Linked DNA regions of Homo sapiens: region 2 is linked to region 1. Evidence: fine-mapped expression QTL. A gene starts in region 1. The other region holds a variant in brackets. All regions are shown on one strand. Distances are between the middles of the regions. Region 1 holds the start of CER1 (cerberus 1, DAN family BMP antagonist). Region 2 overlaps FREM1 (FRAS1 related extracellular matrix 1).

Region 1 (5,387 bases):
TCAGCATCTTTGCTGTTGTGGTTTTGCTTTTCAAAGGTAATAGTGGGATAGCTCTTCAAGCTGAAACTCCTGGGATAAAGGAATCCTGGGAGCCAGCATGTAGGATGTGTCCATCTTCATGCTCCGTCTTCACCTTGCACTGGCACTCCTCCACCAGCATCACCACCTTGATCACGGAGGAAAGTTCAGTGCAGTTCAGTGGCAAGTGCATCGTGGTGAACTTGGCAGGCAAACAGTGAGAGCAGGAGGTATGGGAGTGCTGCGCGGCTCCAGGAAAATGAACAGACCCGCATTTCCCAAAGCAAAGGTTGTTCTGAACAACTACTTTTTCACAGCCTTCGTGGGTTATAGTCTAAAAAGCAAACACATTTCCATTACGTTATTTTGAATTATTTCTTTAACACACATAATGCAGAAGCTATGGACTGTAAATCTGAGGATAATTTAAAAATTTCAAAGCTTTCCAATTTTGGATACAATTTGCAATATGCAAGTGATGGTATCTATAAGGGCACAGAACCACCTCAATTAAATTTTCTTTATTGAGTAAATTATTAAACAGCCTTTAGGGAATCCCTAAGTTAACATAAAAAATATTTTACTCTACATTATTCGTGCAAAACCTTAAGCAATTTTGTCTAATTGGATGTGAGCGATTGAAAAATTCTAATGGTAATTATCTTACATAAGTAATGTGCCTTACTTTTTTATTCCTCACAGGGCTTTGTGCATAGTAGGCTCCCAATACATATTTGTTACATTGATCGTAGAATAGATCAGAACATTCTAGGTTTAATTCTATCCTATTCTGCAAGACCTGTAGTACATTCAAGTCTATGAAGTTGTATGCAAGCAGAGTTACAATGCATATGCCTGCAAATCATTGTATATTACATCACCTTTACCTCTCATAACTCCAAGCACCTAGCTTTATATGCCTTTCAAAATATGTAAGAGTCAAACATCTTAGTTTTAATTTAATTAGCAATAGAATTCAAAAGAAGAATTTCAAAAGAAATTTGATTGCCTGATTCTTAGGGGTAATTTTCTAATTGCACATGGCCAACAGAGTAGTCATTATTATTTGATAATTGACTTGCCATTGCTACATATCCTTGCCTTTTCAGGCAGAATACTTAACTGCCTTGAACAGTCAATTGCCCTATTCTATTGCTTGCTTAATTGGGTAGCATTACTCGACTATAAAATTTTACTCTACCCTGCATGTTTTTGGTTCAATATCTTCATGTTTAAGGACCTAATGCAAGTTCTCAATTTTAATTTAACATTTGGAATGTAGATATTGCCAGAGGAAGTAGACAGTAGGATGTCCCTTTGTCTTAATAGCATGGAATTGATCATAATAACTACAAATCAGCCAACACAACATGAATCAGGAGAAAGGTACTTCTAAGGGGAGGAGATATGATCTCACATCAAGATTGATTTTTTAAAAAGCTCATATGAGAAAATAAGTGAAAGAAAATCACTTTTTTGCTATCATAATACTAGAAATGATATGACAACTTTTGCCTGAGAACCTCAACGTACTTTGAGGTTGTGGGATAGCTTTAGCAAGCTATTAAAGAAGTCCCTCATAAACCTATAAAGTAATTAAGTATGGACTATGGGGATTAAGACCATCGTAAATGGATATGAGAGTATTTGGGAAGGAGTCCAATGCACCCCACTTTATCAACAAATGGAGTTGACCTGCTCATCCACATATTAATAGAGTGCAGAAAGATAGCTACAGAGGAGTTCTGGTGATTACTCTAAATTCTCAGTTTCCTAACTGAGGGTACAGTCTGACTTATATCTCTGAGTAGATCACCTCCAATGCAAAAATAAATAAATAAAACAGAGCTCTGTGTCTTCAGTGTGAATGAATGATTACTGATATTGACAGTATCATCATATCATTCTTGCAGCATTTCCACAATGCCAAGAAAAAATGGAAAGGCCAGAAGGAAACTTAATCTTTGCCAAATCCTATGATGAATGCCCAAGGACCAAATCTGTAGTTAAGCTAGAGTCAGGCTCCTGACAGCCTTTTCCCCTACTCTCCATCCATCCCAGCTGTCCACTACCACCTGCAAACTCTTACCTGCTCTCCCCCCAGAACACATACCTGGCTGAAGGGCACTGTCCTGCAGGTCTCCCAATGTACTTCATGGCTTTTGATGGGCAAGATGACCCCCTGAGAAGCCGGAGTTTTTCTGAACATGAAGTGGTGCCAGAATTTCTTGGCTTCTTCCCGAAGAGGAGATTTCTCCATTTTCATTCCATCTATCGGCTGGATGAGGGACTGGGTCCCAGGTGGGAAGGGCTCACTATCTGAGTCCCTGGATGGATGCATTTCTCTCTCAGGCTTCTTCCAGAACCTGCCAAATCTGGACAGCATCTTCTCTCTCTGCCTCTGGCCTTCCCCTGCAGGGCTGGTGGCTACAAGGTGTGGCACTGCGACAAACAGATCTGGCTTCTCCTCAGCTTCCTCATGGTTGCCTGTGGGAAGCTCTCTTTGATTCCTTGGCAGGAGTACGGGGGAAAGAGAACTCTGATTCTGGCGGCCATCCTGGTGCCGTGTGGTCTTTCCTAGAGGCAGGAGTACCAGCAGCTGAAATAAGAGGAGATGCATGCTGTCAGGGGCCCAAGCTTCTTTTGTAAATGATGAGGCCCAAAGGAGAGGCTCATTCTCTGCAGGACTGGGAAAAAGGAAATCGTATATATAGATACCTGCCTGGCGGGATGGGAAGGCAGGTGGTCAGTAGCCAGGCAGAATAAACACATTTATTGTTTGCTTGAATTATGTAGTGCTAATGGCCTCCTGCCGTCACTTTGGTTTTGTGTATTTTAAAAGGCCCCAGTGAAAGCCTGGGACCCAGGGGGTAATTAGCTAAGAGTTTAGCTATGTCTGGGGCTTAAAGAGCAGTATTAGCAAAGACAACACATTCTTTGCCTAAATTTCCCATGGCTGTTTTCAGAAGAAGGACTAGAGTCAGCTCACATTTGCTGTGCATCTGCCTTGTGCTGGAATAGAATAGACAAGACATGTTGCTGTAAGAGAAGTTTTTGGATAAAAATTAAAGGCATACATTTAGAAAAAGCCCAGGCCTTTAGGAAGGCTATTCACACACACACACACACACACACACACACACACACACACACACACACGAAGAAGTATATCAAAGTTGTAAGGAGAAGAAAGGAAGAGCTAGAAGGATGTTAATTTTTTTGAGCAAGGGACATATTGTTTCTTACTTACATGCAAATTGGGGTTATTGATTTTTGCACAGTAACTGAGTAAAGGGAATATGTTTTCCTTTCCACACGTAGAAACTCACAATTCCCAAGTTAATCCTCTCACATTAAGAATCAATTAATGGGTGCTAAATTTCACAACTGGTCAGTCATCAGATAAACTCTTCCAATTGTTCACATGTTCCTCAACAGGATACCACGTAATAGACTGACAGCTCATCAGTCTTCAATGAGGATAGGGAAATGTCTCCCTCCAGCCATCCTATTGATTTTTTTTTCCCTTTGAACAAAGAGCCAGACATGAGAACGTGGATTCTAAGAACCAGGTTTGATAACTTTGTGTGTGACGCTGGCTAGTCAGTTTCTTACCTTATTGAATCCACATCATCTCCCCTTGTTTTACACTAATTGATGGCCAGGCTAAATAAAGATTGACACAAATAAGAGTCTTCGGGGATCAAAGGAAAAATTGAAAAATAACTATCATTCAAAACTATCATGAATCAGCCTAGGATACGAAAAAGAAACACGTCCAGAAAACTGAAACCCCAGAATAGAGTCCGATCAGCCTACCACATGATTCAAACAGTATTTCCACTGGGAAGCAATGCAATATCTGCTTTTATTTCTCCCCTTTTAATTCAATCACTATATTCCTTGCTTTCAATAACACAAATAGTCCTGGAACATGTTCCCCCTTTTTTGTCAATACTGATTAAACTTTCTTTCCAAGAAGTGACCCACTGGAGTCTGTTTTCCAGGCATTTCTGTTCTTCTTGATAGCCATGCCTGATTTCTATGAAATAAAGCCTTAAGTAAGTCCCTTTACCCATGATAATGAGCTATTTTTAACATGGACCATCACTTTACCAGAATGCCATGAGTGGAGATATATTGTACTTGTACCAAATATCTATGGAACGTGTGCTAGTATTAATGAAAGGTGCTGTTGATATATAATAAATAAGCATGTGTATTTGCCATTGTTTTTTTTTATTTTAGGAAAAGGGTTCTGCTCTGTTGCCCAGTCTGGAGTGCAGTGGTGCAATCATAGCACTCTGTAACCTCAAACTCCTAGGCTCAAGCAAGCCTCCTGAGTAGCTGGGACTACAGGCACACTACCACACCTGGCTATTTAAAATTTTGTGTTGTTGTTGAAACAGAGCCTCACTCTGTTGCCCAAGCTGCTCTGAAACTCTTAGCCTTGAGCCACCATCTTGCCTCTGCCTCCCAAAGTGCTGGGATTACAGGCGTGAGCCACCATGCTATGTCAACATCTTTTTTTTTTTAATTGACTGCTACTTGAATTTCTTAATTCCCCTCAGCCATCCAATGCTATACGCTTTCCAGAGCTAGTCACTAGGCCTCCTGGTATAATATGGTGTGGAAGCCAGCTGTGATACCTTTCCTGAATCCTTTTAACTGTTACTTTTCAGTAACTGAAATTCCATTGTTATCAATCAGAGTATCTACTATTTCCCAAAACTAAAGACAATCTCAGAAATTCTATCTCGGGTCTCAGTTTGCTTGGCTCTGGAATTACTGAACATGAGATACAGTTGAGATAATTCCTGTTGAACTGCAATGTGTAGAAGACTCACTTTGTGTGTTAAGAATCATATTAGATACTGGTAGATAATTGAAAAATGAGTAAAACTTTGTCCCTGCCCTCAAGTAGGTTAGATAGTCTAGTGGGATTTCTTATGCATCATCTAACTTTATTGTATAAAATCATCTATAGGGATGTCAGTTATCCATTTTTCACTTTCCTTTAGTCCTAAACTTCCCTTCCTCTGATCCTAATTTGGGGCTTATAAGTGCCATTTAAAAATCACTCACAGAGAATATCCTTTTGCTGTTCTGTCACTTCTTTTGAGAAAATGTGCAAATATCTTGAAATATTCTCCCTACTCCCATTAGTAAATACTATCCGTGAAAAGTAAATCTAGCAAAGCCAAGCCTTCTGTGATGAGAACTATGAAACAAGCCTATCTCCAACCTCTGCCTTTTTCAGCTAAAGGCAATGACTATCACCTTTCACTATCGTGTCCATTCACCAATTCTAAAGCCATTGATACACTGTGTGTGTATAATTATGTGTGTATAATTATGTATGTATAACA
Region 2 (5,387 bases), 140 kb after region 1:
GGCCAGTCATGGTGGCACATCCCTGTAATCCCAGCACTTTGGGAGGCGGAGACAGGCAGATCATGTGGTCAGGAGATCAAGACCATCCTGGCTAACACGGTGAAACCCTACCTCTACTAAAAATACAACAAATTAGCCGGGCGTAGTGGTGGGCGCCTGTAGTCCCAGCTACTCAGGAGGCTGAGGCAGGAGAATAGCTTGAACCTGGGAGACAGAGGTTGCAGTGAGCCGAGATTGCGCCACTGCACTCCAGCCTGGGTGACAGAGCAAGACTCCGTCTCAAAAAAAAAAAAAAAAAGGAATTTTAAATATTTAATATGTTTAAAAATGGAAGATATTGCACTTTCTGTAACTAAACAGCTGGTAACAAAAAAGAAGAATTTCATTCATTTTTGGAATATATTTTCTCCCTGATTTTCATTAAGAATTTGTAGTTTATAATTTCCATTTTCTACCATAAGTGGTGGGTTGGAACACCAGAGATACCTATATAAGGACACTAGAGGGAAACAGGATACGGCTAAAAATTTGCCACAGAAGAATCCTAGGGAAGATGACACAAGTGGAAATAACTGAAAGTTGGCTACAAATCTTGCCTGATCCACTCAGGCCTCCAGTTTCTGTTGATTACTTTCTTGTCTGGAATCTATTAACTCCCCTCATGACAATACATATCCACAAGAAAAGCCCTCATAAGAACACAGAATGGTTACTTGGCAGCAAATGAGCGATGTTCCCGTGCCGCTTACCTGTAAAGTCTGAGCTTCACTGTGTCTTCATCAAGAATTGGACAACCATTGTGAACATACTTGACTTCGTTGGGAAGGAAATGGCAGTCAAAGACCTAGTTCACATGAAGAATTGGATAAATATCTATGAGAAAATTGGTACAAGATTTAACATTTTGCCAGGAGAGCACTGCCTGGAGAAAATATGCTCTGTTAGTAATGTGTGTATGTGTGTGAGTGTGTGTGTCTTCACCACCACCACCTCTACCCTACCCCCATACCCAGTCACCATCCTACTTATACAGCTGTCTCTTGTTTTGAGAATATCTAAGTTGTGAAAACCAAAGCAGTTCAAGAAAATTAGTTAAGGGATGATTACGTCTCTAAATAAGTGTCTTTTTACCACCTAGAGTGCATTTAAAACATACTTTCATTTTTCGAAATTTTATTTACCCCTTTCAGGGGTTCACAGCAATTGAGTTAGAGAGTTCTTTCTGTGTGTCTGCATGAAAAGGCATGCTTTAACCCACCCACAAACACACTGTATTCTTTCTGTATATCTGTGTTCTCCTTTCATTTCTTTTTTTTTCCGAATAGTATTCTCATATTCAAAGATGAAGCCACTGACTATGGACACTACTGTGGTTAATCAGAGCCTAACATGACCCAGAGTTGTGTCTTGCATACTTGCAAAAAACTGCTTTCATTAGTTAGGCAATAGCAGAAATGGCAGATGAGAAAAACAGAAATCTAAAAGCAATTTCCTCTATTCAAATAAAATTATAATGAACTGTCTCAACTCACTCAGAATTATTAGGAGATTGTTAACTGTTATATTTTGGGAACCTGATTTTTAGAGGAAGAATCATCTCTCCCACCCATATCATGCCCTTCATTCTGCCCAATCTGACTCTGGTAGAGTTCTAATACCCTTGAGGTATGCACGCATGTCCACCATTGTGTTCGTGGTGTTTCGTCTGTACCTTTTCACAGCCTCAAACATTTTCAGACAACATAATTCACTCAGAGAAGACTTTACCACTAATACAAACGATTTTCTTTTCCCGCAGATATCATTGATTCCTCTTTTAAATTGACAACTAGGAAGGAGATAAAGCAAAGACCTTCCCCATATCATTGACAAATAGTCATGGTAATAAAGAGACAGTCTGCTTTGTTAAAAGAAACATCTGTTTTATGTTTCATAATATGTTTTCCTTTTATAAAAGGCGACAACCATAATTGTCCATAAATTTACTAACTAAAACAAAGGAGAGCTAAATCCTTTTCTAATTACTGTCTAGCTTTGTTTTTTTCCACTTCAACTGCTTTTCAATTACAATTTATAATTAAATTGTCACACATTCCTAGCTCATTACTCACTTTAATGACAGTAAAATGGTTCAAAGTAGAGATACTTTCTTACCGCTATATTTCCTATTCAAAAAAGCAAGTTTAGTGCTAACCTGGGGTGCTTTCCACCCAGCAAATTTCTTGCTTTGGGCTAGGTGTGAGAAGTGCCATGTGTGAGGGAGTCTTGTCCTAAAACATGAGGAAAACATATTGCCATCAACCTCATCTAATTGACTATATCAAGAGGGTTATCTGAACAGAAGGCACTGGTGTGCATCAACTGAAATCCCTTTCCAAATATTCAACAGGAAAATGAACCTGTTGATCCTAAGACAAACTTCAGTAATGAAATGAAAACACTAATTGAACAGATGTTAAACAAAACATTTTCTGTGCAAGTCACATGAAACTGTTCATTACACAGCAGGGTGTTGTTAATACAGTCGTCTTGCTAGAAATGGGTTCACATAAGCTTGGCTTTCAGCTTATTACTAAGCTCTATTAAAGAATAATGTTTAGGCTGTGTGTGTGTGTGTGTGTGTGTGTGTGTGTGTGTGTGCACATGCACTTAGCTATGCTTAATTTCTAAAACTCCATAAGGAACGAACCCCTAGGGAAGGACTGAACCAGCCTGCGTTAAAAACCAAGCACAAATTCAACAAAACAAAACAGACTTAGGAATCTTGTTTTTGTTGAAATTATGAGAATAACAAATAGGAACAATCACCTGGCAGTTTGAGAAACAAAGTTCTCCCATGATATAGATTTCTCTCACACACAGTTTTAATATTTGGCCAAAAAAAGTACTGAAACTCCATATTTTAATGAACTCCTTTACCACAGAATAAATATTAGAAGATATAAATCCCATACCGACTTTAGAGGCTATAAATCCATTTGAGATGTCATATTTGCCTCTGGAAATACATACACTAAGTATTCATGACTTGATTCTACTTTTTCTTAATGAGCAATAGCAGGCTAGGGAATCAGTATATTCAGAGGTGTTTCTCAGCAACCAAGGCAATTTGTGGTTTCTCCTCTATACTGTCTTTCTAGTAACTGGAGTTTTACCTTAAAATCAGAGAGTGTGAGATGGAGATGACTTGCAGGCCTATTCCAATCCTTGATTCTTGTGAACAAATGTTTTTTACCTAGTTCTAGTCACTTGGATCCCTTTTTGCTCCTCAGTGCCTTGGAGCAGGCCAAGCAATCAGGACCATTAAAACATCACTAAAGATATATAA[T/C]GGGGACAATTTTATTTCTCTCAGAGAGACTGCCATATACGGTAAGGAGTCATAGGCCATTTGAGGTAGGGAGAGGAGAGCTCTCAGAGGCTGGCTTAGGTAACAATAGATTATCTCCAAATTGCCTACTAAGGAGAATCTGGTCATCTGCAGGGCTTTTGTTTTGCTCAGTTGGGCATGCATGCTTGAGGTCCAAACTGGAAGACAGCTTAGACAGCTTGCTCCTGCGAGCTACCAGTGGGAATTTTCCTTCTTCTCTTTTTCACAATATACTCAGGCCCACTTCTAAATAAATGTTGAATGATTTTTAAAAATATATTGATTGGAAGAGGTACCATATTATCAATCACCAGTCTTTATAAGACACCCATATGTGCCAGTACAGCCCTGGGTTCCTGCTTTATCAAACACCCCAGTCCTCTAGGATCAGGTGTCCTATTTTACCCTCTCTCAAAACTCTACAGGCTGCATTTTCCTTTCTTTTTTTTTTCAGACAGAGTCTCACACTATCACCCAGGCTGGAGTGTAGTGGCACTATCTTGGCTCACTGCAACTTCCGCCTCCCGGGTTCAAGCGATTCTTGTGTCTCAGCCTCCCGAGTAGCTAGGCTTACAGGTATGTGCCACTACGCCTGGCTAATTTTTGTATTTTTAGTAGAGATGGAGTTTCACCATGTTGACCAGGCTGGTCTCTAACTCCTGGACTCAAGTGATCCACCCGCCTCAGCCACCCAAAGTACTGGAATTACAGGCGTAAGCTACTGCAACCAGCCTGCATTTTCCTTTCGACCCCAGTCCCTGTAGTTGGGTCTCTATCACCCACTCCTGAGCTTATTTGTATTGCTTCCTCATCCTATGTAGCACATTGGGGTTCTAGTATGAGCAATCCCAGGTATCTTCTTTTTCCCTGACTCGTAAGTGCCAATCAAAACACATTCAGAATGCAAGTATAATTGGGAGTAACTGAGGAGACACTGCAACTACCAAACACTTGGGAATACAATGGCTAATATGTGGAGCCATTGTTGAATTCTAACATGTTTTAGATACCCATCTAAAGCTCTTTGACTGACGATAAAATCTTACAAGCAACTAGGCAGAGACATTTGGTTACTACCACATCAGAAATACCTGCAAAGTGAGACCCTCTTCCAAAGAATTCTGATGTGTTTCAGAATGGGTCTATAACTTGAAGTGTGGTAAATGGAGTGTCTAGAGACACCAGTTGAGCTAGTATCCATCTAAGTCTTTTTTTCTCTCTCTGTAATACCTAGTACCACTTTTCAATAACCTCGTGGATTAGTTTTCTTTAGCCAAATGAAAAGGAAATAAAGTTCATAGTTCAGCAAAAGAGAATGGTCCATTTTTCCAGAAGCAGCAGCAGCATCTAGTGTTGAATATTCTCAAGATTGTTTGCACTGGGAGCAAAGTTACAGGACAGTGGGAACAAGTAATAAAATCAGAAGCAATTTTTTAAAATTATGTATAGTGGTAACTCCTACTTTAAGCAAAAACAGTGTTAGAGAATATAGACTTTTTAAACCCAATGAATTAGGAGGTAACTCTTCACTCTACAAGAAGATTGACAATAGAATACCCTTAAATATAAAGGTCTCCAAGATTTTGATTAAAAGGAAAAAAATTAAGCAGATAATTTCAAAGAACAGTGAATATTTAAAGTGAAGTATCTTCACATCTCTTTTCTACTTCTTTTCCCTTACTCAGAAAAAATGTTTAAGTGATGTTAATAGATGAAACATCTTCAAGTTTTACCTTTGCTATGCTAAGGTCACAGGTATGTCCTAAAAATGTCTTGAAATCTTGATCTCTTATCCAAAGCCACTCTGACTGGCAATGGATGTGATAACTCGGGGCAGGAATAACTCCAATGTAATTCTCTTACATGATGCTTTGCGCTTTTTCCTGTATAATTAGCTACTCTATAAGGTCAAGCAGCTGGTGAGATATACCAGAGTTATCTTCAGGAAAGAGGAGAAATTGGAAAGACTTACTGAAACAGTGCATTATTAAGAAAAAAATTACATGCATCCATATTAGTT

The links.
Region 2: its variant is fine-mapped to the expression of CER1 in sigmoid colon (GTEx, PIP above 0.99).

The regions. Positions count from the first base shown.
Region 1 is chr9:14,720,035-14,725,421 of GRCh38, forward strand. It overlaps CER1 (cerberus 1, DAN family BMP antagonist), which reads right to left and starts at 2,699. Exons shown (of 2, transcript NM_005454.3): 1 at 2,132-2,699; 2 at 1-352. The coding sequence starts at 2,638. The coding sequence ends at 56. RefSeq lists enhancers at 1,847-2,786, 2,787-3,724.
Region 2 is chr9:14,863,060-14,868,446 of GRCh38, forward strand. FREM1 (FRAS1 related extracellular matrix 1) reads right to left here. Exons shown (of 37, transcript NM_001379081.2): 3 at 750-844. Among named protein-coding and RNA genes, the nearest start is that of FREM1, 45 kb to the right of the region's middle. The variant T/C (reference allele first, on the strand shown) is at 3,329.